Homo sapiens: one gene and its partners. The protein of the gene in region 4 interacts with the protein of the main gene of each other region in a pairwise test. Each region holds a gene or a part of one and is shown on either strand. Other genes may lie near its edges.

Region 1 (8,660 bases), on a different chromosome or scaffold from region 4:
CTTTTTTTTTTTTTTTTTTTTTTGAGACAGTCTCATTCTGTCGCCCAGGCCGAGTGCAGTGGTCCTATCTCGGCTCACTACAACCTCCGCCTCCCGGGTTCAGGCGATCCTCGTGCTTCAGCCTCCTGAGCTGGGATTACAGGTGTGTGCCACCACGCCCAGCTAATTTTTGCATTTTTTAGTAGAGACAGGATTTCGCCATGTTGGCCTGGCTGGTATCGAACTCCGGATCTCGGGTGATTCGCCCACCTCGGCCTCCCACAGTGCTAGGATTACAGGCATGAGTCACCGCTCCCGGCCCACTCTTCTAACTTCAAATGGTTGTTCTCAATTTTAGCAAGGTTAAGTTATTAATTATCTGAAAATGGAATTTAAGTTGATTTCCTTTGCAAGCCAAGACTTTTCCAGCTTGTTTCATTGTGTTCTTATACATGATCTTGAAAATATATTAGTTGTTTATTTTGATTTTTAAAATTGTTTGAAGCAGTTAAGCTTAAATATCAAAGTAAAATGTTTATTCTGTAAAGTTCTCTTTTGTTTAATTAGGTGTTTGGTGACCAATAAATCTGCCTGGTTGAACTGGTGGAATCGAATTAGTAAGTTTGTGTAATAGTTGGCTGTTTCTAACTGTGGCATTAAGACTTGTTTAATGTTCTTCATAAAGGATTAATGAGTTCAGACTTTTAAAATAGGTAGCCCAGTAAGGAATCAGAGTTTAGGCCAGAAGATCAGGACATCTAATCCTAATTCTGCCTGAAGACTTGCTCTGTGACCTGGGGCAAGACACTTCACTCAATTCCTCAAAAACACCCCCTGTAAAATGATGATAGAGATCACCCACCTACCTCACAGGGTTGTTGTGAGGATAAGTAGTAAGTTAACAGAAAGTTTCTGACTCGTAAAGTACTTAAGAATAATTATATACATACATACACTGAAAGGCTTAGTCGAGAGGAACCTTTTTGAAACAAATCCTAACAAATTTTGAGGGACTAAACTTGTAGTATTTTTTTTTATCTTTGCCATTAGTTGACTTGTAAAATTGGGAAAAGCTTTTTATAGTGTCTTTAGTACATACTTTGCACCAAGTTGGTATAACAATGTACATTTTGTGATTAATTTAGCACCATTTGTTGATGCCCATTGCGTAAGCGTCATAGAACAAAACCTGTCTTAATAGGTTAAGGACTTTAATGTAGATTGTGAATACATATGCAGGTGAACCTGTTTGATATATTCCTATGAGGATTTTGTTGTTTTTCCCTGACATGAGTATTTCCTTCTAGGTAGTTGTCCTGGGAACCCCTGCAGAAGAAGATGGTGGTGGCAAAATTGATTTAATTGAAGCAGGGGCTTTTACAAATCTTGATGTTGTTTTTATGGCCCACCCATCACAAGAGAATGCTGCTTATCTACCAGATATGGCTGAACATGAGTGAGTAATCAAGTTGAAGATAAACTTCTTAGGGGAACACAGGCTATAGAATACTTTTATGTCTAAACCAGAGACGAAAACTCCACATTTGTATATTTAAGAAGTAAATTGAAAGACAATAACAAGATGTCTTGATCTATGGAGTGACATTTGGCAAGCCTCTTCTAATTGAGATTCATTATGGTGTTCATAATTGGAGTATTAAAATAGTAGCACTTAGAAACCATAGGAATAACAAACATGTTGACAATTAAGTTCTCTTTTGAACTGTCAATAATCTGGTGTCTGGAAAACATCTGTCCTTTCATATGAAATTGTCTTTGCAACTGAATAGATTTGCGAGAGATCGTTCTATTAGCTATGGGAAGAAACCACACTTATCCATTTTATTTACTTTAATTTGAGTTCTTTGCAAAGAGGATAAATTATGTCCTGAGAGAGAATATGGAACATGAGTAGCTATGGTTTTTGTGGAACTTCTCATTCTGTGCTTTTCCGATTTGTCTGGTGCTGAAACCTTTTATTTGTCTTTCTTTATGTTGAAGAACTCACTTTTTAGTACCTAGGAGCACACATCATTGAAGTGGTTTGGATTTTTTATACCAGAAATTTCAACCATAGTAGTAACTATAGTAGTTAATGGTCCAGGCACAAGGAGCCAGTGCTCAGCTGCTTCAGCAAAACCATGTGTTTTCCTCAGAAGTAGCTCGGTACTGAGGGAATGATAGCAGAACCATCACAGCAGTGCTTCTAGATTGTACCCGGGTATCCCACCTCTTAGCACCTTACCAGGCCCTGTTTTCAAAGGGTGATCATTTTAACTATTAGGGTATCTTCCTTCTTATCACTGGAAATTGGTACTGTGGCAGTAGGAGGAATCTTTGAACTTTGGTTTCAAGGGTGGTGGTAAACTAGTCCATCTCTAGAAAACACTGGGGATTAGAAATCTCTGCCCTTGCCTTTGACTAGAAGGGGCCTGCATATGCAGGCAGGCTCTGCAGCTCATTACCCTTCTGGGACTTAAGGTTAGGCTTCGTGGTCTTGGTTCTGAAGTCAGCGCACTTGACCCCAGACCTTCTCCTAGTATCTGCCTTCTTAGCTTTCTCACTGATCATCTCTTTTTTTTTTTTTTTTTTTTTTTTTTGAGGCTGAGTCTCACTCAATTGCTCAGACTGGAGTGCAGTGGCACGATCTTGGCTCACTGCAACCTCCGCATCCCAGGTTCAAGTGATTCTCCTTCCTCAGCCTCCTGAGTAGCTGGGATTACAGGCGTGCGCCACCACGCCCAGCTAATTTTCATATTTTTAGTAGAGACAGGGTTTCACCGTATTGGTCAGGCTGGTCTTGAACTCCTAACCTCAAGTGATTCACCCACCTCGGCCTCCCAAAGTGCTGGGGTTACAGGCATGAGCCATCACACCTGGCCTTCATTGGTCATCTTTTAAGATAGAAAAGAGAGGTCAGGTGCAGTGGCTCACACCTGTAATCCCAGCACTTTGGGAGGCCAAGGCAGGTGGATCACCTGAGGTTAGGAGTTCGAGACCAGCCTGGCCAACTTGGCAAAACCCCATCTCTACTAAAAATACAAAAATTAGCCAGGCATGGTGGGCACCTGTAATCCCAGCTACTTGGGAGGCTGAGCCAGGAGAATTGCATGAACCTGGGAGGCGGAGGTTGCAGTGAGCCAAGATCGTGCCATTGCACTCCAGCCTGGCCACCAGACAAGTGAAACTCCATCTCAAAAAAAAAGAAAAAAAAAAAGAGAACAAGATCAAGAATTCATTTTTTTTTAAATTACTAATCCACTTTTCTTAAAAATTCTTTTTTTTTTTTTTCCGAGAGAGTCTCGTTTTGTCACCCAGGCTAGAGTACAGTGGCGCAATCTCAGCTCACTGCAGCTTCCGCCTCTGGGTTCAAGGGATTCTCCTGCCTCAGCCTCCCATGGACCTGGAATTACAGGCAAGCACCACCACACCCAGCTAATTTTTGTATTTTTAGTAGAGACAGGGTCACCATGTTGGCCAGGCTGGTCTTGAACTCCTGACCTCAAGTGATCCACCCGCCTTGGCCTCCCAAAGGGCTGGAATTACAGGCATGAGCCGCCAGGCCCAACCACAAATTTCTAATGAATAAGATAAAGCAATCCTGCTGACCACCTTTCCCAAATCCAGTCCTTTTTCTAGAGGTATGTATCCTTTTCAGAGTGTTTTTGGTGTACTTATGGGACATAAATAGAATCCTGTATAAATTGTGAAAGAAGGTTTTCCTCAAGTATTCCACTCAATATATTGTTCTGGCTTTTTAAAATTAAATAGTATGTCTTGAAAATAATTCCATATAATCCTTCTCGTTTTTATAATATTTATCACCAGTTGTGATGAAATTCCGGTTTTGCCAGGCCAGGTGGCTCACACCTGTAATCACAGCACTTAGGGACGTCAAGGCAGGAGAGTCTCTTGAGCCCAGGAGTTCATGACCAGCCTGGGCAACATGGTGAGAACCTGTCTCTACAAAAAAAAATAAAAAATTAACTGGGCATGGAGCACTCCTGTGGTCTCAGCTATTCATCTGTGGGAAGCTGAGGCAGAGGAGGATTGCTTGAACTTGGGAGGTGGTGACTGCAGTGAGCTGTGATCACGCCACTGCACTCCAGCCAGGGTGACAGAGGGAGATGAGTACCAAAAAAAAAAAAATTCATTTCAAGGTCATGGTGATAAGATATATATCAAGGAAATAACAATACAGTATCCTGAAATCTAATACGTGTTTGATGTTTTTACTTGATTTTTGTCCTGCTAATAGAATGTCTGGAATCAGTTGAGAAGAAATATCATAAGCATTCTAAGGACTCCTGAATCTAACCCATTAAAATAAGTCCAGATTGGTTTTCTAATCACCTAAATGTGGGTATTATTAATCAGGCTTAAAAAGTGTTATCAAAGCACGTCAATCACAGAGCTTTATAAGTAACTATTCAACACGCAATCCTTTCTCTAATCTTTTTTTTTTTAATTGTATTAGAGCAGTTAGACTGGTGTGAGAACTTAACAGTTTATTAAAATGTAAAATATTAGTGATGTAGGCATTTTGGAACATAATAAAATATTGGATATTGGTCAGGAACAACTGCTTTAATACTAGGGTATCTTGTGATAACATTGAATATAATCTGATTTTCAGAGGTTGTCTTAACCCACTTCAAATAGTAACTCCTTTCTGGCTTTCCTGACCTTCCACCTCTTAAGACAGAATTTCTGATTTTTTACAGACTTTTGATAATAGAATCATCACAATGCTGTGTAAAAACATACAGGATCCATTTTTTTTTTTTGTAATTTCAGCACCTGATACCATATTGCATGTTTGCATTAGATTGTGTATACATTTAATCTTTTCTCTTTTTCTCTCTTTTTTGGGAATGCTTTCTTTGTGTCAAGCACTATGTTACCTAATAATAAACTATAACTAACATAAATAAATTGCAGTGTTATTACTACAAATAATTTGCAAATCAAAAGTCCAGCAATGTGAATTAATTTTGAATAGTAGTTGGGTAATTCTGACTACCTGGATTTTCTTACTTTAGCAATAATAACAAAAGTAATTTCAAATGATTTTTTATTTCCTAGTGTGACTGTGAAATACTATGGAAAAGCATCTCATTCTGCTTCTTATCCCTGGGAAGGATTAAATGCATTAGATGCTGCTGTGCTGGCCTATAACAATCTGTCTGTGTTCAGACAGCAAATGAAACCAACCTGGAGAGTTCATGGTATGAATGTCAAATACCTTCTATAATAGATGGTGCTTGCTATAGTTCAGTGCAGTATAATTATTTAATATTCAATTTTTAAAAATTTGGAAATATTTTTGTACTTCATATGAATATTCTGATTTTTAAGCATATTTTCAGAAATTCATGTGACAGGATACTAAGATGTTTGTCTATATAGGGTTAGAAAGACAGTTTTGATTATTGTACATAAATGGAATGTCATCTTTGAGTATCAAAGATAAAGGTTTTATGTAAGGGGCTGTGTTCTTTCGGTGGGTGTTTGAAAATTGGATCTTGATTTTCCAGTTGTCCTCATTATTTCTTAATGATAACCAAATTTTGTCAATTAAAAAAAGGTATAATAACTGCTAGTTTTATTTAAGTGCTGTTAGTCCTGAGTAATATCTTTTTGTGTGATTTTTTGTTTTTGAGACAGTCTTGCTCTATTGCCCAGGCTGGAGTGCAGTGGTGCAATCTCGGCTCACTGCAACTTCTGCTTCCTGGGTTCAAGTGATGCTCCTGCTTCAGCCTCCCAAATAGCTGGGATTACAGGCAGGCAGACACCACCAAACCCAGCTAATATTTGTATTTTTTGCAGAGACGGGGTCTTGCTATGTTGGCCAGGCTGGTCTCAAACTCCTGGCCTTAAGTGATCTGCCCACCTCAGCCTCCCAAAGTGCTGGGATTACAGGTGTGAGCCACCATGCCTGGTCCTGAATAGTGTCTTTTAAAATTATATATATATATCACCATAATATAAATACAGTCAAAGTACTGTCTTGAAGGCACACATTTGTTTAATTTATTTCCTTATGATTTAGGAAATTGTTATATTTTAATATCTATTCTTTACCTGATTTTGCTATAGCCTGAGGTCAATTTGTAATTGTACTTTTACCAGTTTTCCTGCTTTAGTTTCTTTAAAAGGAACAAACAGGAATGTGTAGAAATATTTTTTTAAAGTAGGTCATAGGACATTGGATTTTTTGTATCTATTTTAGTTATTACTTCGAATGAATAAATCTTAATTCTTTATAATTCCAAATAAATACATTTGTTTTGACAGTTGATAATACTTAGTGATCTTTGACCTGCATTGGTTTTTTTCTTGGCATGAAAATTATTTTTCCTATAGCTAAATGCCATTTAAAATGCTCATGGGATTCCTGAGGTATGAGGGTAATTATAGAACCTCATACCATTGTTGAGGTATGGTAAAATCTTTTCCAGAAAGCTTAAGATGTTACTAATTTTTTTTGTGGTTATATAATTTCTAAGTTTCATTATAGTCTGGATCATAATTTCTTAACATTATGTAAATTCTTCTGAATGAAGTGCATATGGATAATTATTTTTTCTTATCAGCCAAAAAATATCACCCTATGTAAAGAAATTTCAGTTGTACAACATAACAAAATCTTTGATTGGTGTATTGGTGGAGCTAGTGAGTTTAAATTATTTTTCTTTATGAACATATTGGCTGAAAAACTTAATGGGTGTATTTAAGCTTAAAGAAATGGTCACCAAGCTTAATTCTAGTAATTTGGTTCTTTTTATAGGTATAATAAAAAATGGTGGTGTAAAACCCAATATCATTCCCTCTTATTCTGAATTAATCTATTACTTCCGTGCACCCTCAATGAAAGAACTTCAAGTTTTGACCAAAAAGGCAGAAGATTGCTTCAGAGCTGCAGCTTTGGCTTCAGGGTGCACAGTAAGAACTTTTAAAAGTTAATCTAAGTTACAATCAGAGGTATATATGTGGGCTAGCACTGTTAGATTGAAATCTAACTTGACTCTCTTATTTGGTGACATGTTGAATATGCAAAATGAATTGGCTGAATAGTTAATGTGAAAGTCTTTAATTTTTACACGTTTCATTCCTCAGTGCTTGCAATAGGGAAGATGACAGGTCATCTTACTTATATAGTAATTAGAATAATTCTGATACTTCTATGCTAGAATCCCTGCCTTTTTACAAGTTATATTCTTCCTTGTCGGCAGTTATACTTTTAGAATTGCTATATGTAGTTTCTATAAAGGAAAGTTTATGGCAAAATCAGCAAAAGCTTTTTTTTTTTTTTTTTTTTTTTTTTTGGTGGGGGGACAGGGTGTTGCTCTATTGCCCAGGCTGGAGTTGCAGCGGCACGATCTTGGCTCACTACAACCTCCGCCTTCCAGGCTGAAGCAATCCTCTCACCTCTGCCTCCCACCTCAGCCAGCTGAGTAGCTGGGACTACAGGCACGCACCACCACACGTGGCTAATTTTTTGTATGTTTTTCTGGAGACAGGGTCTCACCATGTTGCCCAGGCTGGTCTCAAACTCCTGAGCTCAAGTGATCCACCCACCTCGGCCTTCTAAAGTGCTGGGATTATAGGCATGAACCACCTCGCCCAGCCAGCGAAAGCCATTTCTGAAGTTAGGGTGTGTATAGTAGTGATATAAATACTATGGCTTGCTGGAATGGAAGATAAAATAGACACAGAAGTTAGTTAAGAGGTTTTATTGATTTGTTTCTGTTTGTTTGTTTGTTTTTGAGACAAAGTCTTGCTCTATTGCCCAGGCTGGAGCGCAGTGGTGCAATTTTGGCTCAACGCAACCTCCTCTGCCTCCTGGGTTCAAGCGATTCTTATGCCTCAGCCTTCCAAGTAGCTGGGACTACAGGCGCTTGCCACCACACCTGGCTAATTTTTTTTTTTCTTTTTTTTTTTTGAGGCGGAGTCTTGCCCTGTCACCCAGGCTGGAGTGCAATGGCGCAATCTCAGCTCACTGCAACCTCTGCCTCCCAGGTTCAAACAATTCTCCTGCCTCAGCCTCCTGAGTAGCTGGGATTACAGGCGCCTGCCTCCACACCCAGCTATTTTTTTGTATCTTTAGTAGAGACGAGGTTTCATCATGTTGGCCAGGCTGGTCTCGAACTCCTGACCTTGTGATCCACCCACCTCAGCCTCCCAAAGTGCTGGAATTACAGGTGTGAGCCACCACACTGACTGGTTTTGTTGATTTGAACTATAAAGTTAGTATTTAAAATCATGTACTGTGTAAAGTGGAGTGAGTTTTAGAATTATACAAGATAAGAATCTTGCCCTAGAGGGAGCCTGTAGTCTAGTTGGAGAGACAAGATCTTGACCCATAACTCTCAGCCTAGCTAATTCTGTAACCTTTAGAAATGTTTAGTGTCTTTGGCTCTCCATTTTCTTGCTTGAAAAATGGAGATAATAACAATTTATCTTAGGATTCTTGTGAGAATTAAATGAGATAATGTTTCTGAAGGGTTTAGAGCCCAGCCTTCATTTATATTGCCTTATTTTTTTCTGTTCTTATTAGTCTAGAGATGTATGATTGATTCACGTAGTAGCAGTATCTCACAGTAGCAGTAATTCTCAGAAAGCATATGTTACGTGTCCTGAGAGTAGTGTGGAATGTGTCGTGAGGATCAGAGGTGGGA
Region 2 (8,660 bases), on a different chromosome or scaffold from region 4:
CCATGCTGTTCTTCCTCAAAGGTAAATAGTATCCAGGGACAGCTTGGCACTGCCCCCGATGCCAGCCTTTGGCATTGCTGAGGTTGGGGCTGTAAACAAACATACTCTTACTGAGGTGAGAGGGAGGTGAGATTCAAATACCATTCACGGTGTGACAGTAGCAGATAACAGGCAGGAAAAGCCAAGGTTGCTGGGCTCCAGCGTTAATTAAAGCTCCCATGCAATCATGTGAGGCTGGCAGTGCACTGGTGTTTGTTCAGGAGAGCGTTTCAGGTAAAGTTTCCCGTTTTGGGGAGAACAGCATTATTAATCTGTGTGATCAAAATGCTGGCTAAAATGTTCCAAATCATTTAAAAATGAGAAACATAGGATGCGTGACCCAGCATGGTCACTGCAGAAAGCAGTATACAGTGCGGCTCTTGTCATTTGAATATAGTCCTTAGACTGTGGTTTTTGAAAGTTGAAGGATCTTAAGACTACCTACCCATGATGTCTAATGGCCTATAATTCTGTAATCCCAACAAATGCTCTTCCTCAGTGATCCAAATAAATTCAGGTAGTGGAGTGGTCTTCAGAAGCCCCTCATCCATTCCAGTGAAATGTGCTGTTGAAAAGGTGTATGCAAATCTACTTTCTGGAACTCACATATTTTAAATGCACCAAGAGTCTGTTACTCATGCTAAATCTTTATGAAACACATTAGCAACTTTTGTATAAATCCAGATTTGCAGGTGTTGCATGGCTTCAAGATGAGGAATTACCTGTAGTCTGATATACGTTTACTTCTCAAGCTGACTTTTTCCATTATAAGCAGTGCTTAAACATCCCTAGGGCCACTGTTCTCTGGTAATGTAAATATATATGGAGAATCCAGTAAGGTGTGCGTTACGTTATTATGCAGTAATCCCTCATACAAGTCACTTACTATCTCTCCCACATTCAACGTTTTGGCCTTAATTGATTTGCCTTCATACCATGGAAAAATTGCCAAATTGGTTCTGGCTGACTAGGTTTTCTTTTCATTTCAAATAATTATATAAGCCATTTAAATTGTATAAACCCACTAAACCATACCTCAAATGCTGAATATTCAAAAAATATATTTTATGACAAGTTTGTTGAGAATTTATTTGCATAAAAATGCCAGTATTTTTCTGCTGTGTCTCTAGAGATATACCACCCCCCAGCTAAGAGTGGGTGGTAGGCAAATGTGCTACGGGCTCCTGGGAAATGGATCATGAAGAATGTGGTGTGCTCAGTGGCCAGAGGGGCAGTGGGGCCTGAGTCTGTGTCTCTGAGTTTGTGTGTTTCGAGAACAAGAGCAGAGGGCATTCAGATGTAGAATTCCTCCATGTCGTTATCCCCGGGGCCAGCCGACCCTGGGGGTGGTGGCATGTCTCCATCAGTCTGCTTGACTTTGGGGGTATCGCATGGGAGCTGTGGGGAGGAGTCTGTGAGGGTGGAGGTGCTGGGAGCTGGGGGAGCAGCACGAGCTGTCGCTGAGGAGCTGGAAGACCTTTTGGTGAAGAAAGGGAGGGAAGCCCAGGAGGCCTCTGTGGTCACCCTGCTGACAGTGGGCAGTGGTCCCTCCCTGGAATCCTTGTGAGCTGCCCAGTGGCTGCTGCATCTTTCGGAGGGGAGGGGTGTCTCCACTGTGCTGCAGAACCTACTGGGTGCAGAATATGCAGAGACCACAGACAGGTCCGATGAGGACAGCCGCAGGCCTGTGTCCACGTCTGTCTCCTGGGCCCCCTCTAGGTCATCGATGGAGAGGAGGTGGCCATGCCTCCACTCTGATGCCCTGTGCCCTGGGGCACCTGTGTTTGAAAACCACTGTGGTTCAGCTGAGGAGGCCAGGGAGGGGCCTCCCGTGGGCAAACAAAACAAGGACTTGCTTCTCTGGAAAGACCAGGGAGGGTTGGGGGTGCTGTTGGCTCGTCCGGCAAATTCCTGCTGGTGCCCAGGAGGCAGGCCTGTCCGGATGGGCCCCGGGTGAGGACTGTTGAGCGGGGACTGCTGGCTGCTGCCAGGTGTATGGCTTGGTACAGCAGTGCTCGGCAAAGGAGTGGAATGACGTTTCTTCTCGGAGGCATGATGTACTCTGCCAGGTTTAGGAAACTTCTTATGCACCCTTTGTGCCTGTGGGGGGAGAGGCAGATCACATTAGTGCAGGATGGGAATTGTTAAATGCATCAGGAAACACAGTTACCAATCATTGGAAACTCCTGGCAATGTCATGGCAATAAAGCATTACCAGCATTACCAGTTCTGCAATCTCTAGAGCAAAGACAGAGGTAGCAGAGCTTTGAGGAGCACCAGAAAGAGTTTTCAGTCTGAGGAGCCATCTCCGAGGCTAGGAGGAGATTCAGCTCCTTATCACAATACAGAATACTTTTTAAAGCACACATGCCCATTGCGCTCAACAAACTGGCAAAAAGAACATGGGCCTGGCTGAGCAGGATAACGGAGATAAGAATTATCACAAAATGCAAAAAGAATGCTTGCAGGGTTTCTTTCCTTCCAACCAAAGAATCACAGTGTGCTCACCTGATAGACACTGTTTGTAAATGTTACTGATGAGAGGACAGAAGTGATCAGGATGGGCTATGCAGAGACAATTTCAGACCAGATCCACATGGGGTGTGATTCTAGTATATGCATGATAGCCAGGACACAGTCTTAGGGTGGGGTGGTCCATGGTTCCAGACAGTAAATCCTCCATGAGTGAGGGGCTATCGGGGTTAGCATTTATCTACTTGTTGCTAGTAACTACTGATTCCTCTATATACGTTACCTTTCAGGAACTGTGTACAGGAAAGGGAGCTGCCGCCTGCTGACTGATCCTGCGGATCCTGCAGGGGTTGGATGAGCAGCTTTGCCCTGTCATATCCCAGCCTATCCTCCTGGTCCAGCAGCCCTCCCTGGCCCTCACTGCAGCTCACCAGTAACCCGTTTCTGTTGTGCAGAACTGGAGACCTCTCTTCCAATGCGCATTTGCACCAGGGTCTGCTTCTCTCAGATTCTCTCTCTGGTCTGTGTCCAAGCATACAGGCCAGAACCCAAGGCCAACCTTACTATGCATCCAAGGTTTCAATTAAATAATGGGTTTGGGGGCAGTCGGTCTGGCTTGACTTAGTATATATTAATAGTACCTGATTTACAAATCCCTGCAATAAGAAAAGGGTTCTGACTGGGGTTTACTACAAGGGCTCTCGGCATCCAGCAGGAATGGAGAGTCACCCCTTTGGGATGGGGTAAGGAGCAGCCCCAAAAGGCTCAGATGTGCCTAAGAGGTGTCACAGCTGGGTGGCTGCTGGGGAAACAAACCAATTTTCTTAATCATTTGAATTGGCTGAATAAAAGAGAAAATAAGTCAAGAGAAAATAAAATGAGGCTATTAGAGAAAGAAGTCCTTGGGTACAGAGGTTGTTTCCGGGGGAGGGGGACAATGTTTATTAATTCAAATGTCTATCTTATTTTTTCCAAAGGCCAATTCCTTTGGGTGCCCTAATGTCATTTTCTTTCTTGATAAGTATGCATCACCTTGTAACTTCTGTCTTCAAAGTCTTATTTGAGAACATGCACTTGGTGAAAAATTTTGCAGTCCGAATCTGCCTGAAAAAGGAAGCCTTTGTGGTTGCTTTATGAGGAGCAGAAGGTCAAGGTTCCCATGCAAGGAATGCCAGGGGACGTCTAAATGTTCCCAGTGTCAGGGAATAGGGCACTGTTCAATTTGGCTTAAAATCAAGCACAACTGATGGAGGATGAACACTGTGTAGTTTTGCAGAGATTTTCACGACTGTGCTTGTTTAACAGAAATCTACCTGTATTCTCTTATTTTTACCACATGACGAAGGTAGGAATCCAGACAAACCCTACATTCTGCTGCTTTGAAGAGAGATGGTACCCGGTCTTTTTCACTGGAGGGTGCCCACGTGCACAGTGGAGCTGCCTGCTGGGTGGGCGGAATTTGAGGCTGATATGGCATTGTGAATAATGGCAGGAAATCCTGGGTGGCAGCAGGAGGCAGGTGCTTGAGGAGCCTCCACATCGCTCCTGAGGCCTGGAGCTGATGTGACTGCAGGGCTTGCATATGGGCGGATCTGGTGGTATTCTCTGGCTCTGTCCAGTGGCAGAGGGGTCAGTTTCTAAAAGTGGGGTCTTGTTGGATTTAAAGACAACCCGCACCTGTGAAGGTTGGAGCTCCTTTATGTGCTGTTCCCCTGGTGGTGGTTCCATCTCTGGCCTCCCTTGTGTGCTTGTCTGCTGACCAGAAACACTAGAGGCTGGGAGGGAGTTACTTTAGATGTTTCCAGAGACTCCTCCTCAGTGGACCTTTTTAGAGTGAAACAGGAACCTGAATCCTCCTCGCATGGAAGCCTCCCCCTGGCTTTCAGCTCTTGGAGGCTGCCCTCCTGAGCTGCTCCAAGTGACAGCAGCGATGTACTCGTTCCTTTCTTTCTCTTTGAAGCAGTGCAGGCTAGCTGCCTCCCTGGAATCCAGAAGCTCCCTTCTTTCTATTTAAGGAACTTTATCTAAGGAACAGAATAGCATCACATAAATTAATGTGCTTAAGGCAACCAGCCCGGGAAATTTGGCTATGTCCCTAAAGTCACCAAAAAATTGGAATTCAGTAACTGATCCAAAAGTTTTCCCTGCACCTTTGAGTACAGTTTGCAACTGGGGAAGCGAAGGGGTCTGCGGCGGACCACTGAGGCAAAGCATCTTTTTCAAGGATCTGGGTGTCAAGAGGCTCATACCCTGGCACATGGATAGAATCCTTTCTCTCTTTTTTTGAGACAGAGTCTCGCTCTGTCGCCAGGATGGAGTGCAGTGGCGCGATCTCAGCCCACTGCATCCTCTGCCTGCTGGGTTCAAGTGATTCTTCTGCCTCAGCCTCCTGAGTAGCTGGGACCACAGGCACGTGCCACCACACCCGGCTAATTTTTTGTATTTTTAGTAGAGACAAGGTTTCACCATGTTAGCCAGGATGGTCTCAATCTTCTGACCTCGTGGTCCACCCGCCTCGGCCTCCCAAAGTGCTGGGATTACAGGCGTGAGCCACCATGCCCGGCCAATTCTTTCTCTTTAATTTTTTACTTTTTATAGATTTAGGGAGTACAAGTGCAGATTTCTTATGTGCAGATACTGCATAGTGATGAGGTCTGGGCTTTTAGTGTACCCATCACCCAAATAGTGAACAGCGCACCCAATAGGTAATTTTCAGCCCTCACCCCTGGTCACCCTCCCACCCTCCCACCCTGTGGAGGCTCCAGTGTCTCTTATTCCACTCTGCATGTCCATGTGTACCCATTGTTTAGGTCTCACTTCTAAATGAGAACATGTGGTATTTGACTTTCTGTTTCTGAGTTATTTCATTTAAGATAATGACCTCCAATTCTAACCATGTGGCTGTAAAAGATGTGATTTCATTCCTTTTTATAGTTAAGGAGTATTCCATGCTATATATACCGCATTTTTTTTTCCAGTCATCCACTTGATGGACACTTAGGTTGATTCCATATCTTTGCTACTGTGGACAGTGCTGTGATAAACATACGAGTGCAGCTATCTTTTTGGTAAGAATCTTTTCTTCTTAAATCGCTAGTAAAGGTGATTCTGCCCCTCCCCCAGGAGCCCTGGCAGAGTCTCATGATTTGTTCATGGTCAGGGACTTTACCCTCAGCCTCACACCTCCTCTTTCCCAGTAAGATCATTTCCTCTTGTGTTTTCCTTGGCAGAAACATGAGCAGTGTGACAATGTCTGCTGTGTAATGAGCCCGTGATGGCCATTTTAACACAGGGACTAATACAAATTTGGGGCTGTCTCAAGAAAATTGGGCAACGGGTTCACATTGAGAAATCAGAGTCTTGCTCTAAAGAAAAATACCATGTTTTGCTTTTCCTTTCCCTTTCCTTTGGGTGGTTTTCACACACTCACTAAGGATGCTGGCCATGGGCAAAGCCTGTGTTGTCTTTCTGGAATGGTCAGTACAGGAAGAGGATTTGGATGGAAAGGGCAAAGTTCACCCTAAGAATGGACAAAGCCCGTACACGTTTTGTAAAATCAGTGATGTTTTTGGTAGAAAGTTTGAAAGTTGTCAAAGAGATGCTGAGCTAGACAGGATGGCGGTTGAGCAAATGCTTGCTGGATTGTCATCTGTCTACCTTCTCTTCCTGTCGCTATTATGGAAGTGTAAGGCTTTCTGGAAAATCATCAGTTATAGCAACATACCAATTCCATTCTCTGCATAGAATGGCAGGTAGTATAATTCAGGGTAAAAGTACTTATTCCCCCAAATTGGTAAAATGGCAGCAAAGTGATAATTAGCACCCCCTGTGGCTTCCTGCCAAGAGTTACTTAGCCTCCCTAGCTTCACCCCGCATACCTCTTGAGTGATCTCTCTGAAAGTCAAACCTGAACAAGCTCCTTGGCAAAACTCACTCCTTGGCAAGCTCTACAAGACCCGGCCTACCCCTTGAGCCTTGTGTCTTTCTAGAATCCTAACTCATGTGCGCCAGCAGTTTACAACTACCATGCTCCCAAACACCTCATGCTCGTTTGTATCTCCATGACTTTACATGGTGCTCCCAGTGTCTGTGCACTTAGAGAATACCTGCCATCTTCGGAGACAAAATTCAAGGTGCTGCTGTGAAGCCTCATTTGGCCACTTCCCCTCATTTGGTGAACAACATGCACTCATTTCTCTTGGGTATATTCCCAGGAGTGGAAATGCTGGGCCACAGCATGAGCATGTTTGCGGCTTTAGTAGATACTGTCAGTTTCCAAATTGGTTGCGTCGATACATAATTCTACCAGGAATTTATAAGTATTCCAGTTGCTCCACGTCCTCACCAGCATTTGGCATTGTAATTCTTTTTAATTTTAGCCATTCTGGTGGGTAATGGCATTTCATCATGTTGTTAATTTGCATTTCCCTGATGAGTGATGATATTGAGCATCTTATGAGATGTTTATGGGCTATTTAGGCATTGCTTTTAGAGACATGCCTGCTTTTTATGCATACTCTGGATTTAACACCTTTCTTAGATATATGCATTGCAAAAAATATCATCAGCCAGTTTGTGGCTTACCTTTTTGTTCTCTTATTGGTATCTTTTGATGAACAGAAGTTCTTTTTAAAGTCATTTATCTTTTTTTCTTTAAGGCTGGTACTTACTGTACTCTGGTTTATTTCTTTATTTCTTTAGAGACAGGGCCTCCTTCTGTTACCCAGGCTGGCGTGCAGTGGCACGATTATAGCTTATTGCAGCCTCAAACTCCTGGGCTCATGTGATCCTCCTGCTGCAGCTGCCTGAGTAGCTAGAGCTAAAGGCATGTGATACTATGCTCAGCCAATTTTTTTTTTTTTTTTTTTGTATATACAGGGTCTGGCTATGTTTCCCAGACTGGTCTTGAATTCCTGGCCTCAGGTGATCCTCCTGCCTTGGCCTCCCAAAGCACTGGGATTTCAGGCATGAGCCATCATGCCTGGCCCCTTGCTCTATTTTAAAAACTTTTTGCTACTGCATCCAGTAGCCATTGTGAACCAGGATTCCTGAGTACTGTGGATGACCACAGGGAGGACAGAAAATAAGCCACTCTTGATTAAGCCACGATTCTTTAGGTCCCTATCATTCTCAGTTGTACTTGAGCTTACAAATTACTCCAACAAATAGGAGATATTGATATATTTAGAGGAACTGGGTTAATTGTTAAATCTTCACTTAGTTCTGTGAGGCTTTTAGAAATTGGGTTGCTTGACATCTGATCCTGCAATTATGTGTTTAAACAAATGTTCAGTTTTGTACATAGCAAGCACTCAATATATTCCTGAATGAATAAATACAAAAATACATGTGAGATACAAATACATATCTTCTAAAATAACTTAAGGTAATTTTAAGGTACTTATATGTGTGTAAGTTATGATATATGCCTATATATCATAAATCATAAATACCAATAAATATTATTTGATTTTAACAGAAAAAAGTTATGAGGACTCTGATATTTTTGGGAAAAGCAGTAGCAACATCTAATGATAAAGAGCAACTTTTCAAATAAAAAAATATCTGAGTAGTTGCCTCAGGGACCAGCTTTGTTTAATACAGGTTGAGTATTCCTAATCCCAAATCTGAAATCCAAAATGCTTCAAAATCTGAAACCTTTTGAGTGCTGACATGATGCTCAAAGGAATGCTCACTGAAGCATTTTGGATTGTGGATTTCCAATGCTCAAGTGATAAGTATAATGCAAATATTCCAAAATCCAAAAAAATCTGAAATCTTAATCACTTCTGATCCCAAGCATTTCAGAGAAGGGATAGTCAACCTGTATCAGTAGTGACTCTTGTGAAAATGTGGCAAGGATCCTAGGAGATACTATTAATAAACAGAAAAGGGCTGGGCACCTAGAAGTTCTAGGAAACAACATGGATATTGATCTGATGTATATTAAAAAGCTATTCACTTAAGGAGGAACAACAGAGAAAATCAAAGTGACAGCTGAGGACCCGGAGCTAGCGCCAACAAATCTAATGATAGAATCTGTAAAACTTGAAAGAATATCATGCCCAGGTGCAAGCTTTCTCTTTGTATAAGTTCTGCATCTTTCCCCGAATATTTATTTTTGGTGTAATTTGTGAATTACCCTGCCC
Region 3 (6,168 bases), on a different chromosome or scaffold from region 4:
ATGGGTGCAGAGACAGGGACTGAGCCGAGCCTGGATGGGTGCCCTCCCCCACCCCCACTCCCGTCTCCTCCAGGTCATTCAAATGGGGTGAATCGGACCCGCTGCCTTACGTGGTGTATGGCCACACAGTGCTCTCCCACATGGACCTTGTCTACGTAATTGGCGGCAAAGGCAGTGACAGGTGAGGCTGGGCCTGGAGTGAGTCTGTGGAGCAGAGGTAGAATCTCCCAGAGGCTGTCAGGGGTTTGTCCTGGCTGCCCCGGCAGGTGATTGCAGGGAGGCGTGGCTGGGCTCCTGCTTCTCTCCACCCATCCCCACCCTCCACCCCACAGGAAGTGCCTGAACAAGATGTGCGTCTATGACCCCAAGAAGTTTGAGTGGAAGGAGCTGGCACCCATGCAGACCGCCCGCTCACTCTTTGGGGCCACTGTCCATGATGGCCGCATTATCGTGGCAGCTGGGGTCACCGACACAGGGCTGACCAGTTCTGCCGAAGTGTACAGCATCACAGACAACAAGTATGAAAGCTTGTCCCTTCCGCCAAGGACAACTGCATGGCTTTGGGCTTCTGTCAGCCCCAGCAGGAGCTGCAGTCCCTGTCTTGGGTCTCCAGTGTTGACTTTGGACATCAGTATAGAAATAGGCTTTCTCTCCTGATCAGCAGTGAGGTGGGGAGGCGGGGCAAGGGTTATGGCCAGCCTGGTCTGCAGGAGGGGGCTCCCAGGGCTGGGGGAGGGGATGCCAGGTTCCTCATTCAGGGACTCATACCAGGCAATGGCCTGGTGCAAGGGATATAGCAGTGAACAAGACAGAAGCTGCCCTGCCTGGGACATCAGAAAAGAGAAAACTGAACTGAGAGACAGTTGGACTCAGCTCGCAAAAGGGGTGAGGGTGGTGGGAGGAGGTTGCCCCAGACTAAGGAAAGGTGGTGCTGAGGCAGTTTGGAGAAAAAACTCAAGGCCTATAGGAGGGAAGGTGTTGCTCCAGCTGGGTGGAGGTGGGTGGGTGATGGAGTTGGGATGGCGGTGCTGGGGCTGGAGCGGGGGCCAGCAGGAGAGGGACTGTATCTCATCTGTGTTCTACTAAAGTACTTCATGGCAACTGATATAGAGAGCAGATTAGGGATTTCCCAGGGGTCAGGAAGGTCAGGGGTGATAAAGGCCTGGAGCTGGGGGCACAGCGGAGATGGGGTTGAGGGGATGCACCGGACAAAGACAGGCCAGGGCTTCTTACACTGTGATGGGCATGCAAATCTCCTGGGGATCGCCTTAAAGTGCAGATTCTGATTCTCGGTATGCGGAGGGCTGAAAGCCTGTAAGTCTGCATTTCTAACGCACCCCCAGGAGATGCTGACGCTGCTGGGCCATGAACCACACTTTGAGTAGCAAGAGTCTAGGAGGTGGGAGAAACAGGGCTTAGCTATTGATTGGATGTGGGGGTGAGAGGGGGAGAAGTACATGCTTCTGAGTGAGGGTGGGAGGCCATTTACTGGATAATCATTGGGATTGGGTAGGGAAAGTGAGGGTCCAGTTAGGACATGTGGACTTGAAGTACCTGGGGGTGTCCAAAAGGACCCCACCCGGGAGAGAGAGGGCTGAGCTGGAGGGAGAGATCTGGGGGTCAGTAGCACACGGAGGGGCCAAGCTCCCTCAGGAGAGAGAGTGTAAATGGGAGGAGCTGAGGTCCAAGCCCTGATGGTGGAGGCAGCTGCATTATCCAGGAAGGAGGCCACGAAGGTGAGGCCGAAGAGATGGGTGAGGAAAGTCACGTCAGCAGGGCTGTGTGCTGTAGGACCTCAGTGCGTGTGCAGTGACTGTGGACCTCAGGAAGGTCAGTTTTGGAGGATGGGACTAAGGCCCAAGGCAGGAGCCAGGGTAGCGAAGATACATTGAGAACAACTGGGCTGTGAAGGGAGAAGAAGGATAGAGCAGGTGTGCAAGGTGGGTGGGGCTGCAGGGGCCGCTGAGGGGCAAAAGGACTGCGTCCAGGGCAAGGCTGGGGGCCTGCTAGGGGCTGGGGTTGTGAGTTGGAGGGTGGAGTTAGTTCAGGAGAGGAGTAGGGGCAGTGGGGAGATCCATGGTGGACTTTGCTGGACAGGTTGGATAGAATGGCAAGAGGACAAGGAAAGGAAAGTGGAGGAGCAAGAGAATGGGGAAGGAAGGGAAGACCAGAGGGACAGGGAAGGGGAATGGGGTTGGGGGCATGGGTGCCTGGGACTTGGATTGCAAAGGGTTGCAGTTGGAGCTGTGGGTGCTGGGTGGCAGGGACAGTCACTGGGCTTGCCGAGGCATCCCAATGATGCACCTTCTCACACACCCCCAGGTGGGCACCCTTCGAGGCCTTCCCACAGGAGCGTAGCTCACTCAGCCTGGTCAGCCTGGTGGGTACCCTCTATGCCATTGGTGGCTTTGCCACACTGGAGACGGAGTCTGGAGAGCTGGTTCCCACAGAGCTCAATGACATCTGGAGGTGAGTCCCACCCTGGGGAGGCAAGGGGGCATCATGAGCAAGGCTGACACCCCATAGCACCATGGTGGGGTACCAAGGCACTGGGCAAGCTCCTCTGGGGGCAAAGCGGATCCCTCTTCTAGGGAGTCCTGTAGGGAGGAATAGCCAACATACCCTGCTTGGCCGTTTCTCACCAGTTTGTTGGGAAAGTCTGGGCTTGCACAGATGACACCATGCCCCACTGTGGAGCAGCAACAGTGTTGCAGATGGGAGCAGACCCAAGCTTAGGTCATAGACTCACAGAAACAGGGCCCAAATAGCAGCCGGATTTTCTTCTCTCCTGCCTTCCGGGTGCTTGGTCTGGAGGGAGGGCTGCCACTAGGGCTGGGAAACAGTTGGAGCCCTGGCCTTTCAGAACCATTGCTCTCTATGGCTGGTCCTTTGTGGGGGTGGGAGAAGGAAACTTTAGCCTCTGGGGCATCTCCTTCCTGAACCTGCAGCCATCTGCACTGCTGCAGGCAGCCCCTGGGGAGCAGTGCTGCCGGAGGCTGAGACGTGAGACTTAGTAGAAATGGAGCATGGAAATTCTCAAGGAGAGGACATTGATGGGGTGGTGTGGGCAGTGTAGACCTTCCTGGAGGGGAACTTTGAGGAATATGGGAACACCCCTTGAGAGGTGATCTTTCCTGGGGAGAAAGACCCTTCCTGGAGTGTGGGGTGGGTGTTCCTTGGGGTGGGTCTTGTGGGGGGTCTCCTTTCCCAGAGCCTGGGGATTTTCAGGAGCAGATCTCCCTAGAGATGGGCCAAGTGCCCTCAGCCACCCCTCTCTGCTGCGTTCCACTCTGGACTCAGCTGACCAAGCTCTCCATCCTTGTCCCCACTCTCTCTCATCCCCAGGTATAACGAGGAGGAGAAGAAATGGGAGGGTGTCCTGCGGGAGATCGCCTATGCAGCAGGTGCCACCTTCCTACCAGTGCGGCTCAATGTGCTGTGCCTGACTAAGATGTGACCAGCTCAGGCAGACTGAACTAAGCACCCCTCCCATCCTGCGACCCTCACTGGCCTGGCCTTGTGGGGGCTCCAGAAAAGAGGCTAGGAGAGGCCAGAGTCTACCTGGATCCAGTTATGGTGCCTCAGGGGCTGCGTCAGCCAAGGAAAGGGAAGTGCTGCTTAGTCCTGGACTTTTGGGCAAGGGTGAGAAACTAGAGGCTTCTCCAGTGTTGCCATATCCCCCTAGGTTGTCTTGATCCATGAACCAGAACCACAGGGCGGTATCCCAGGCCGTGTGCTGGCCCTGCCCCAGCCTAGCTGAGTGTGCTGGCAAAGTTCCCCACAGGACTCAGCCTTCTCGTCTGTCCGATGGGAGCATCCCCATCAAGTGCAGTGTACAGTGCAGATATGTCTCCTTCTTTAGGAAGAATAAAGTGCCTTCTGAGCAAGCAGCTCAGGGTCTGCATCAGTGCTCCAAGAGTCAGTGAGCAGGTGTGTTGAAGACTTGGGGCTTCAGTGTTCTGCTGTTGGGCTGCCAAGGTCGATGGTCTCTGCTCTCCATCTGGTGTCCCCTCCACCCTATGGGTGGGAACCCTCCCCTGCCTGAGGCCTAGAGCCTCCAGCTCCTCAGCCACTATGGACGTGGAGCCAGGGGACTGTGGGAAGAAGGGTCAGGGAACAGCCAAGCTGTTGTAGAAAAGTCTTTTATTCTATCGGTCAGGCCCCATCTGGCCCAAGAATAGCTGAGCAGAGCCCATCCCTCTACCCGCTCCCTCCTACTCCGGCTTCTCTTTGTCCTGCTTCTGCTCCTCCTCCAGTGCCAAGGTTCGCTCACGCTCCTTTACCAGCTGGACGCCACAGTAGGTGACAAACAGGATGGACAGCGTGGTCTGGGGGAACCCTGTGTGGGGAGGGAGTCATAGATGCTCAGGAGCAGCACTGCATCCTCAGCGACTTTTGTCTTCCCACCCCTCTCCCCGCTTGATGGGCCCTCCCTTCTGAGTCCCAGGGGTGATGAGGGAGATAGGAGGCATTTTGGAAGGTCACGGTCCTTGAGGCTGATGCCTGGCACCTTCTGTATCCCCACACCCCTGTCCCTCACCTGTGAGTAGCAGGCGCCGGGCAACCAGCTCTGTGAATTTGAGGCTGTTCAGGCTCACAAGGTTGTACATGATGATGGCCCAGAAGTTCATGGCTCCAAACAGGGCCCGGACCCTACGGGACATCTGCACTGACAGAGAGGCCTATCCGGTCCAGGAAAGCATGGGCAGCGGGACAAGAGGCCAAAGGAAAGAGGACATGGTGGGTCAGCAGCCTTACCCACCTGGCCAGTCAGGTCTTGGGGCTATGTCTGGGTCTCGGAGAGCCCCAGGTCAGCTCTCCCTCCTTGTTAAACATGGGGAAACAGGTCCAGAGAGAGGACAAGGCCTGACCAACATGGCAAGGCCCAGGTGCTCCATTCCTCATAGAAGGGAGGGAGGGGCAGATTCCTACAGAGTGAGCCATTGCTCTGACAACTAAGAGGGTGGTGGTGAGAAAGTTCTGGATTAGGGGCCAGGTGTTTGGACAACTCCAGAAAGCAGCAGTGCCCCCCCGCCCTCTATGACCCAGCCAGTCCCAGCCCCAGGTCTTCCCTGCTCACCTCAATTCGTGCTAGGGGCCCCCACTCTGCCAGTTTTTGCATCCAGAGCTCAAAGTTGAGGCCAAAGCAGTTAAGGAATGACCACAGGTAGACAATGTCACAAGGCCCAAGCCACAGTGTGGTGATGGCAAATGTGGCCACTGTGGCTGCCAGCTCTGGGATCACAGCGGAATGCTCCCCACCAATGTGGTTATACACATATCTGCAGGAAAGATGGGAGAAGGGCCACTGGGAGTGTGGGAAAGGGCAGGGATGAGATGGGAGAGGACACACAACAGGGCGTCCTCCTCAACACTGTCACCCTGGGTGCATTCAACATTCCTGACCTCACGTAGCAGCTCCTCCTCCAACCAACTTCAAATTGTGGCAGGCTCAGCCTGGGACATTATAGCTTCTCTATCTCTGTTCGTTTACTTCCCAAATGATCTCATCCAGACCCAAGATTTCAAGTACTAGCTCTATGACGATGACCCCTAAATCTGTGTCTTTAGCCCAGTCTCTCCTGATTTGTATATGCAATTGCTACTAGCCATGTCACTTGATTGACAGATTCCCCTATCCCTGCTCAAACCCAGCTCCGTCCTCATCTCAGTGAATGGCACCACCATCCATTCAGTTGCTCAGGGTATAAGCCTTGGTGCCATCTTGGATTCTCAGTTTGCCTCATCACCCACATCCAAGCAAGCCAGCAAATTCTGTTGGCTCCTCTCAGTCCTGACCACCACTCACCTCCTCTACCACCACCACCCTAGTCAAGATGATCACTCTTCTCACATAAATTATTGCAAGAGCCTCTTAAGTGGTCTTCTTGTTTCTGCTTTTGCCCCCATGGTTCATTCTCCACACAGCAGCCAGAGGCATCTTTTAAGAGTGTAGCTCAGGTCACATCACTTCCATGATTAACCTCTCTGAATAGCTCCCCATTACAATAGGAATAAACTCAGTCTCTTTACTCTGGCTAGAAGATCCCAAGTGGTCTGGTTTCTGTTCCCTTCCTGACCAAATCAGCCACCATGCTCCCCCAGTTCATCATGCTGGCCTCACTGGCCTTTCTTACCTTTACACCCACACAGTTGGTTTGTGTCTCA
Region 4 (6,720 bases):
ATGCAGATAACACCAAGGAATCCAAAAAATTACCAGAACTAATACATGAGTTCAGCGAGATGTCAGTACTGAACAATATATAAAAATCAGTTGTTTCTGTATTCTAGCATGGACAATCAAAATGGAGTCAAGAAAACTGTTCTCTTTTTAATAGCCTCAAAATTAATAAAATCTTGGAATAAAATTTTAAAAAAGCAAGTGTAAGTCTTGCATGCTGAAAGCTACCAACGATTGCTGGGAGAAATTAAAATCTGAACAAAAATGATGGACATTCTGTGTTCATGGATTGGAAGGTTCAATACTATTAAGGTAAAGTTGTCCCAAATTGATCTGTAGATTCAATGCAATTCCTATCAAAATCTCAGAAGGCTCCTTTTCCTTTTTAGAACTTGGCAAAGTAATTTTAGGTTTTATATATGAAATCCAAATAAACCAGAATAGCTGAAAGTATTTTTGAAAAATAAGAACTAAGTTGTAAAACTTACACTTCCTGATTACAAAACTTTATTATAAAGCTACAGCAATTGAGACAGTTATACTGACACAAAGACAAGTATAATGACCAATGCAACTAAGTTGAGAGTACAGAAATAAGCCTTTATGTCTATTGTCGTTAACTTCTCACAAAGATGCCTAGGCACTTCAGTGTGGGAGAGGATAGTCTTTTTGATGAATGGTGCTGGGACAGTTGGATATCCACATGCAAAAAGACGAAGTTACCGCATCCAAACTCAAAAGAGTCAGAAACCTAAATGTAATAGCTAAAACTATAAATGTTTCAAAATAAAACATGGGAGAAAAATCTATGATATCTTGGGACAGGCAAAGAATTTAGACATGGCATCAAAAGCATGATTTATTAAAGATATAAATAGGACTTTATCGCAATTCAAAACCTTTGGGCACTTAGAAAGACACCATTAAGAAATGAAAAGAGTCAGGTGTCAGGTGGGTGTTTTGTTAAAATAATAAGAAAATGAAAAGAGAAGTGATAGACTTGGAAAAAAATTTGTAAATCACATACCTGGTGTAAGATTTGTATTTAGAACATGCAAAGAATTCTATAACTCAATAAGAAGACAATCTAATTTTAAAATGGGCAAAACATCTCAATATTTTACCAATGAAAGCACATGAAGAGCGGATAAGTGCATGCAGAGATACTCAACATCATTAGTCATTAGAGAAATGTAAATGACACTGCAAGATACTACTAAATACCCATTGGAATGTCTATAATAATTTAAAAACACAGATGATAACAAATATTGACAAGGATGTGGAGAAATGAGAATGTTTATACGTTGCTGGTGGGATGTAAAATGGCACATCTACTTCTCCACTTTGAGAACATTTGGCAGTATCTTTTTTAAAAAGCTAAAGATAGATTTTTCTATACAACCTAGCAATTTCACTTTATTATCTACCCAAGAGAAATGAAAATATATGTTCACACACAGACTTCTTCACAAAGGCTCATAGCAGAATTTCTTTATAATAGCCAAGGAGTAGAAACAACTCAAAATGTCCATCAATTGGTGAATGATAAACAAAATTTGGTATCATATAATATTATTCAACAATAAAAAGGTGAACTACTGATACAGGCTACATTATGGATGAACCTCAATTACATTACACTAAGTGAAAGAAGCCAGATGCAAAACGCTACATATTGGGTGATTCTATTTATATGAAATGTCCAAAAAATGCGCAGTTATAGAGACCAAGAGCAAATTAATGGTTGCCTGGGGCTGGAGATGGGAGTAAAGACTGACTACAAATGAAGATAATTGGTATTTTTGGCATGATGCAAATACTCTATAACTTGATTTTGGTGATGGATATACAACTCCATAAAAGTCACTAAATTGTGTACTTCAGATGGTACCTTTTATTATGCAAATTAGATTTCAATAAAACTGTTACAAATTGTGCCTGCGGACTCCACTAGTGTTGGTGTGTATACCCAAGGCTCCTGGGAAGCAGCTTTTTTTTCTAACCTTTCGTACAGCAGTAAGCAAGAGAATTCCCTATAGATTCAGAGGGCTCACTAGGGCTAATTTAAATCTGGTAATTTATGGGCCTGATGGGGCAACCTAGGTCTTGGATGTTAGTCAAGTATTTTGAAAGAATGCCAGCAGTAGGCCGGGCGTGGTGGCTCACGCCTGTGATCCCAGCACTTTGGGAGGCCGAGGTGGGCGGATTACCTGAGGTCGGGAGTTCGAGACCAGCCTGACCAACACGGAGAAACACCGTCTCTACTAAAAATACAAAATTAGCCGGGTGCGGTGGCACATGCCTGTAATCCCAGCTACTAGGGAGGCTGAGGCAGGAGAATCGCTTGAACCTGGGAGGTGGAGGTTGCGGTGAGCTGAGATTGTGCCATTGCACTCCAGCCTGGGCAACAAGAGTGAAACTCCATCTCAAATAAAAAAAAAAAAGTTCCAGCAGTGCCAAGGCAGTTGAATCACATGGTTTGTCATCCCATTTTTCTCACCTAGACTTTCAGTCTTGGTGTGCTGGCCCTGATGGTCTGTGTGGCAAAGCCAGTTTCAAAGGCTTACAGTGCTGCCTGAAGACAGTATCTGGTCCTCAAGATGCATGGAGGCCATCTCTACTGCAGATTTCCTTGGGGTCCAGGCCTCCCATTATGTTGGCCATTCCAGCCCCACAGCAGAGGTTCCTCTGGAGATGGACATCTAGATTGGCCAGTTCTTCTCATTCTTCAAACATTCTGAAGTTCTTTTCCTCCTGAAAATCTTCCCTCTGATTATTTTTTTCTTTAACCTTTACTCCATCTGGAAATAAAATGCCCCTAAGTGTGATATGAGGTATCAGAAGAACATGGCTTTGGAGACAACAATACGGTTTAAATTCCAACTCACCTCACTAGCCATGTGACTTTTGGGCAAGTTTCTTAGCTCCTCTGAGCCTTGTATTTAGAAATCTGTAGAATGGAGAGAATCATACCCATCACAAAGGGTTATTGTGAAGATGAAACAAGATCATGTATGGAAAGACTTGAGCACAATTGACCGACATGTAGTTGGTATTCCCTAACTGTTAGAACCAGAGAGTAGAGTGGGTCAGATCGTGGGCTCTGGGTCTGAATTTGCATTTGTGCTTTTCCACTTCTAGCCAAGTGAGCTGGGACAAATTCCCTCATTTTCTGTATATCTGTTTCTGCATCTATAAAACTGGCATTAATAGTACCCACCTTATTAGGACAGTCTGAAGATTAAGTGAGTTAATATATACAGCACTTAGAATACTGCCTGTTATGTAATAAGTTTTATATAAGTGGCAGCCACTGTTCTCTCACCACCCAATACAATGCCCTATTCCCTTGGAGCAGCATATTTGATTTATGTGGATTACATGTGAGGATTACAGGGACACAGTGGGCTGTCACTCCACAGACGACCAGGTAGGCCTGGTTCATCTGGCTGGTGGCCCACCAGTGGTGGGTTGTGAATTTTCTATCTCACTACATCACATGCATCTTCTCACTCCTTCCATGCTGATTCAGAGAAAGTACCTTCTCCACAGAAGAAAGGAAGTGTTGTCAGAGTAAGCTAGTGGTTGAACTTTTCTGCAGGAATGGATTCCCTGGATCCTCTCACGACCATGGACCCTCTAAGATCCCTGCATGCAGTATTGTGGGGTGTGATGAGAGCTCCTGTAGATTTGTCTCTTCTGCCTGCAAGTACCATAAAGTTGACACATCAGGTGTTTGAATGAAGTGGTAGCAGGGATGTGCTCTGTTCTTTCTTTGTCTCAAAGAACACTTCATCGGAGACTGCCTTAAGACCTTGGGGCTCTGTAGAATATATGCAAGTTGGTTGACTTGATTTATTATTAATTACCTCTTCTGCTTTAATTTCAGCTGATTATTTGCCTTGGAACCAACCAAGGCGAGAGCCACTTCGTCTGGAACACAAATACCAGCCGGCATCAGTCAGGTTTGATAACAGAACCACACACCAGGACGATTACCCCATAAAAGGCCTTGTGAAGACCATAAGCTGTAAACCTCTGGCCATGCCAAAGCTCTGTAACATCCCCTTGGAGGATGTGACTAACTACAAGATGAGCTATGTGGCCCACCCCGTGGAGAAGCGCTTTGTGCATGAAGCAGAGAAGTTCAGGCCCTGTGAAATCCCCTTTGAAAGCCTTACCACTCAAAAACAATCCTACCGGGGCCTGATGGGGGAGCCTGCCAAGAGCTTGAAACCTCTAGCCAGGCCTCCTGGGCTAGACATGCCTTTCTGTAACACCACTGAGTTTCGAGATAAGTACCAAGCTTGGCCAATGCCCCGGATGTTCTCCAAAGCTCCCATCACCTACGTCCCTCCCGAAGACAGGATGGATCTTCTGACAACAGTGCAGGCCCATTACACATGCCCTAAGGGTGCCCCAGCTCAGTCCTGCCGACCTGCACTTCAGATTAAGAAGTGCGGTCGCTTTGAAGGCTCTTCCACCACCAAGGATGACTACAAGCAGTGGTCCAGCATGCGCACAGAGCCAGTCAAGCCCGTTCCCCAGCTGGACTTGCCCACCGAGCCCCTGGACTGCCTGACCACCACTCGGGCCCACTATGTGCCCCACCTGCCTATCAATACCAAAAGCTGTAAGCCTCATTGGTCTGGCCCTCGAGGAAATGTCCCTGTGGAAAGCCAGACCACCTACACCATCAGCTTTACTCCCAAGGAAATGGGCAGGTGCCTAGCTTCATATCCTGAGCCTCCTGGCTACACCTTTGAGGAAGTGGATGCTTTGGGTCACAGGATATACAAACCAGTTTCCCAGGCAGGCTCTCAGCAGAGCAGCCATCTTTCTGTAGATGATTCAGAAAACCCCAACCAGAGGGAGTTGGAAGTGTTAGCCTGATTTTGAAAAATAGTAATTTAGAAATTACACAGTACTTTTAAAAGCAGACAACTGAGAATTATTTGTTGGACAAAAAAGAATTCCCTAAAATGACAAAAAACAAAAAACAAAAAACCTTCACCACTTCCAGAGCACTTGAATAAAATGAGAATCACTTGACTCAGGGAAAATGACATTTAATCACCGGCTAATTAACTCCCCTTACCTTCTCCTTTACTGCATCCCCACCCCGTTTCAGGTCCTTTACTTTGTGCTTATGGAATCAAAGTTGGTCTGTGAGGGTTTCTCTGATCCAGATGTATTTTATTAATTTAATCATTGTATGAACTGACATAATGATTAACCCTTGCCAAGTATGAAGCGCCAAAGAATAAATTTTATTTTGGGGGGAATGAATCTGTAGGCTGGCTATGCAGAGAGTAGTCCGTATTGCTTGGGACCTTTGGGAGATTTTATACTAGCACCCCCATTGTGTATCAGTATTGGTGGAGGTGCCTTGGGCCTGGTCTGGAGTCTTGTTTTGGGTTCTCTCTGTGCAGGGCTGCTTCACAAAGCATCCTTCTACCTCTTCACTGCATGACATACCAGCAAGAATAGTGCTGTTCGATGGGGTGTGGATCTCTTTAGTCACAGGTGATGGAGGGAAAGAAAGAGGGAGGCAGTGATGCATGAACCTACCAGACCTCTCCCCAACCCCAAGCTGGTACAGGCTATGATTCCAGGGAGAGGAGGGAGAAAAAGCACCCTTGGCAACCAGGCAGTCGACGCCTGGTCCTTGAGCTGTGAGCAAAAGCTGTGGGCTCTTCTAAATGCTCAGAGCCTGGAAGAAATTTCCCCAGGCTGGCCTGGTTTCTGGAGAGCCTGGATGTGCTTGTCCTAAAATGACAGCTGTGACCAGACCTGTGACAAAGTTTAACATAGTGGTGAGCCACATTCCGCCCTGGAGTTTCTCTCCTGAGCCTAAGGTTTTTACCACGTTTGTTTCTAAGGCCAAGTAATTTAAAGTTATCTTATTTATATTTTTTTAACTGAGCAAAATTGAGGAGGGACTTTGTTAAAGAGGGTCCGATACAGCCAATTAACTTGCAGATTTTTTTTTTTAACTGGGCAGAATTGAGGAAAGACTTTGTGCCAGTTAGGTGAGCTCATGGGTCTGGGTGAGCCTCACAGAGGGACGTAGACTTAAGTCTGGGACACTTGCCTCTCTCGAGTTCACAGAATCCTGAAATGTACTCCATGGTCTCAGGGAACTTGGGAGTAGCATGGAGAAGGTGGGGGGAGTTCAGCTCATGTCTAAAGCCTTGGGCTTGGGCTCAGGGCCTGGTGGAGGGACCAGGGGCCTGTTCCTTTCTATCTAGGGCTCTGTCTTTCCATGGCTCTCACCCACCTGACCCAGGCTTCGCAGGTCCCCACACCTTGCATCCTCACCATGAGCTTTGTTTTCATTGTTGGGTTGGGATCTATGTTATTTAATCCTCTCATTGGTTTGTATGGGGTCTGAGTGCCTGCCCTTAGGGGTAGAAAGGCTCAGAGTGGTTAAGCACCTTTCCCAAGGCCATACAGCACGGAGCAGCAGAGCCAAGGTCAGAATCCAGGTTTTCTGACCCATGGCTCTTCCACAACACCAGGCGCCTCCCATCTTCTGTGTCTCAGATCTCCTGGCTCCACAAACCACATCAAACCACCTTCTGTCTGAGCCTACTGGAGTTCATTAAGCTAAAGGATTACACTAAGAAGGGTAGGTTTTATTATTACTACTTTTTTTTTTTTAACAAATCAAAAAAATATTGGCACTTCATTTGAAAAGCCAAATAGTGCTAAAATGCT

Evidence for each region.
Region 1: the proteins of SAXO1 (region 4) and PM20D2 interact in binary tests that used the Homo sapiens proteins (3 or more experiments, as listed by UniProt).
Region 2: the proteins of SAXO1 (region 4) and FAM124A interact in binary tests that used the Homo sapiens proteins (3 or more experiments, as listed by UniProt).
Region 3: the proteins of SAXO1 (region 4) and KLHL40 interact in binary tests that used the Homo sapiens proteins (3 or more experiments, as listed by UniProt).

What each region holds. Positions count from the first base shown.
Region 1 is NC_000006.12:89,147,979-89,156,638, forward strand, and holds part of PM20D2 (xaa-Arg dipeptidase), read left to right. Parts: intron 1-546; exon of another isoform or gene 547-1,286; coding exon 1,287-1,435; intron 1,436-3,807; exon of another isoform or gene 3,808-3,928; intron 3,929-5,064; coding exon 5,065-5,207; exon of another isoform or gene 5,208-5,211; intron 5,212-6,769; coding exon 6,770-6,924; intron 6,925-8,660. UniProt on the Homo sapiens protein: Catalyzes the peptide bond hydrolysis in dipeptides having basic amino acids lysine, ornithine or arginine at C-terminus. Postulated to function in a metabolite repair mechanism by eliminating alternate dipeptide by-products formed during carnosine synthesis.
Region 2 is NC_000013.11:51,273,929-51,282,588, reverse strand, and holds part of FAM124A (protein FAM124A), read right to left. Parts: intron 2,140-8,660; coding exon 1,333-2,139; 3' UTR 1-1,332.
Region 3 is NC_000003.12:42,688,537-42,694,704, forward strand, and holds the end of KLHL40 (kelch-like protein 40), read left to right. Parts: intron 1-73; coding exon 74-181; intron 182-332; coding exon 333-518; intron 519-2,322; coding exon 2,323-2,469; intron 2,470-3,345; coding exon 3,346-3,457; 3' UTR 3,458-4,008; downstream 4,009-6,168. Other genes in the region: HHATL (protein-cysteine N-palmitoyltransferase HHAT-like protein), read right to left, coding at 4,215-4,339, 4,541-4,682, 5,081-5,282. UniProt on the Homo sapiens protein: Substrate-specific adapter of a BCR (BTB-CUL3-RBX1) E3 ubiquitin ligase complex that acts as a key regulator of skeletal muscle development.
Region 4 is NC_000009.12:18,926,225-18,932,944, reverse strand, and holds the end of SAXO1 (stabilizer of axonemal microtubules 1), read left to right. Parts: intron 1-3,889; coding exon 3,890-4,893; 3' UTR 4,894-5,295; downstream 5,296-6,720. UniProt on the Homo sapiens protein: May play a role in the regulation of cilium length. Stabilizes microtubules at low temperature.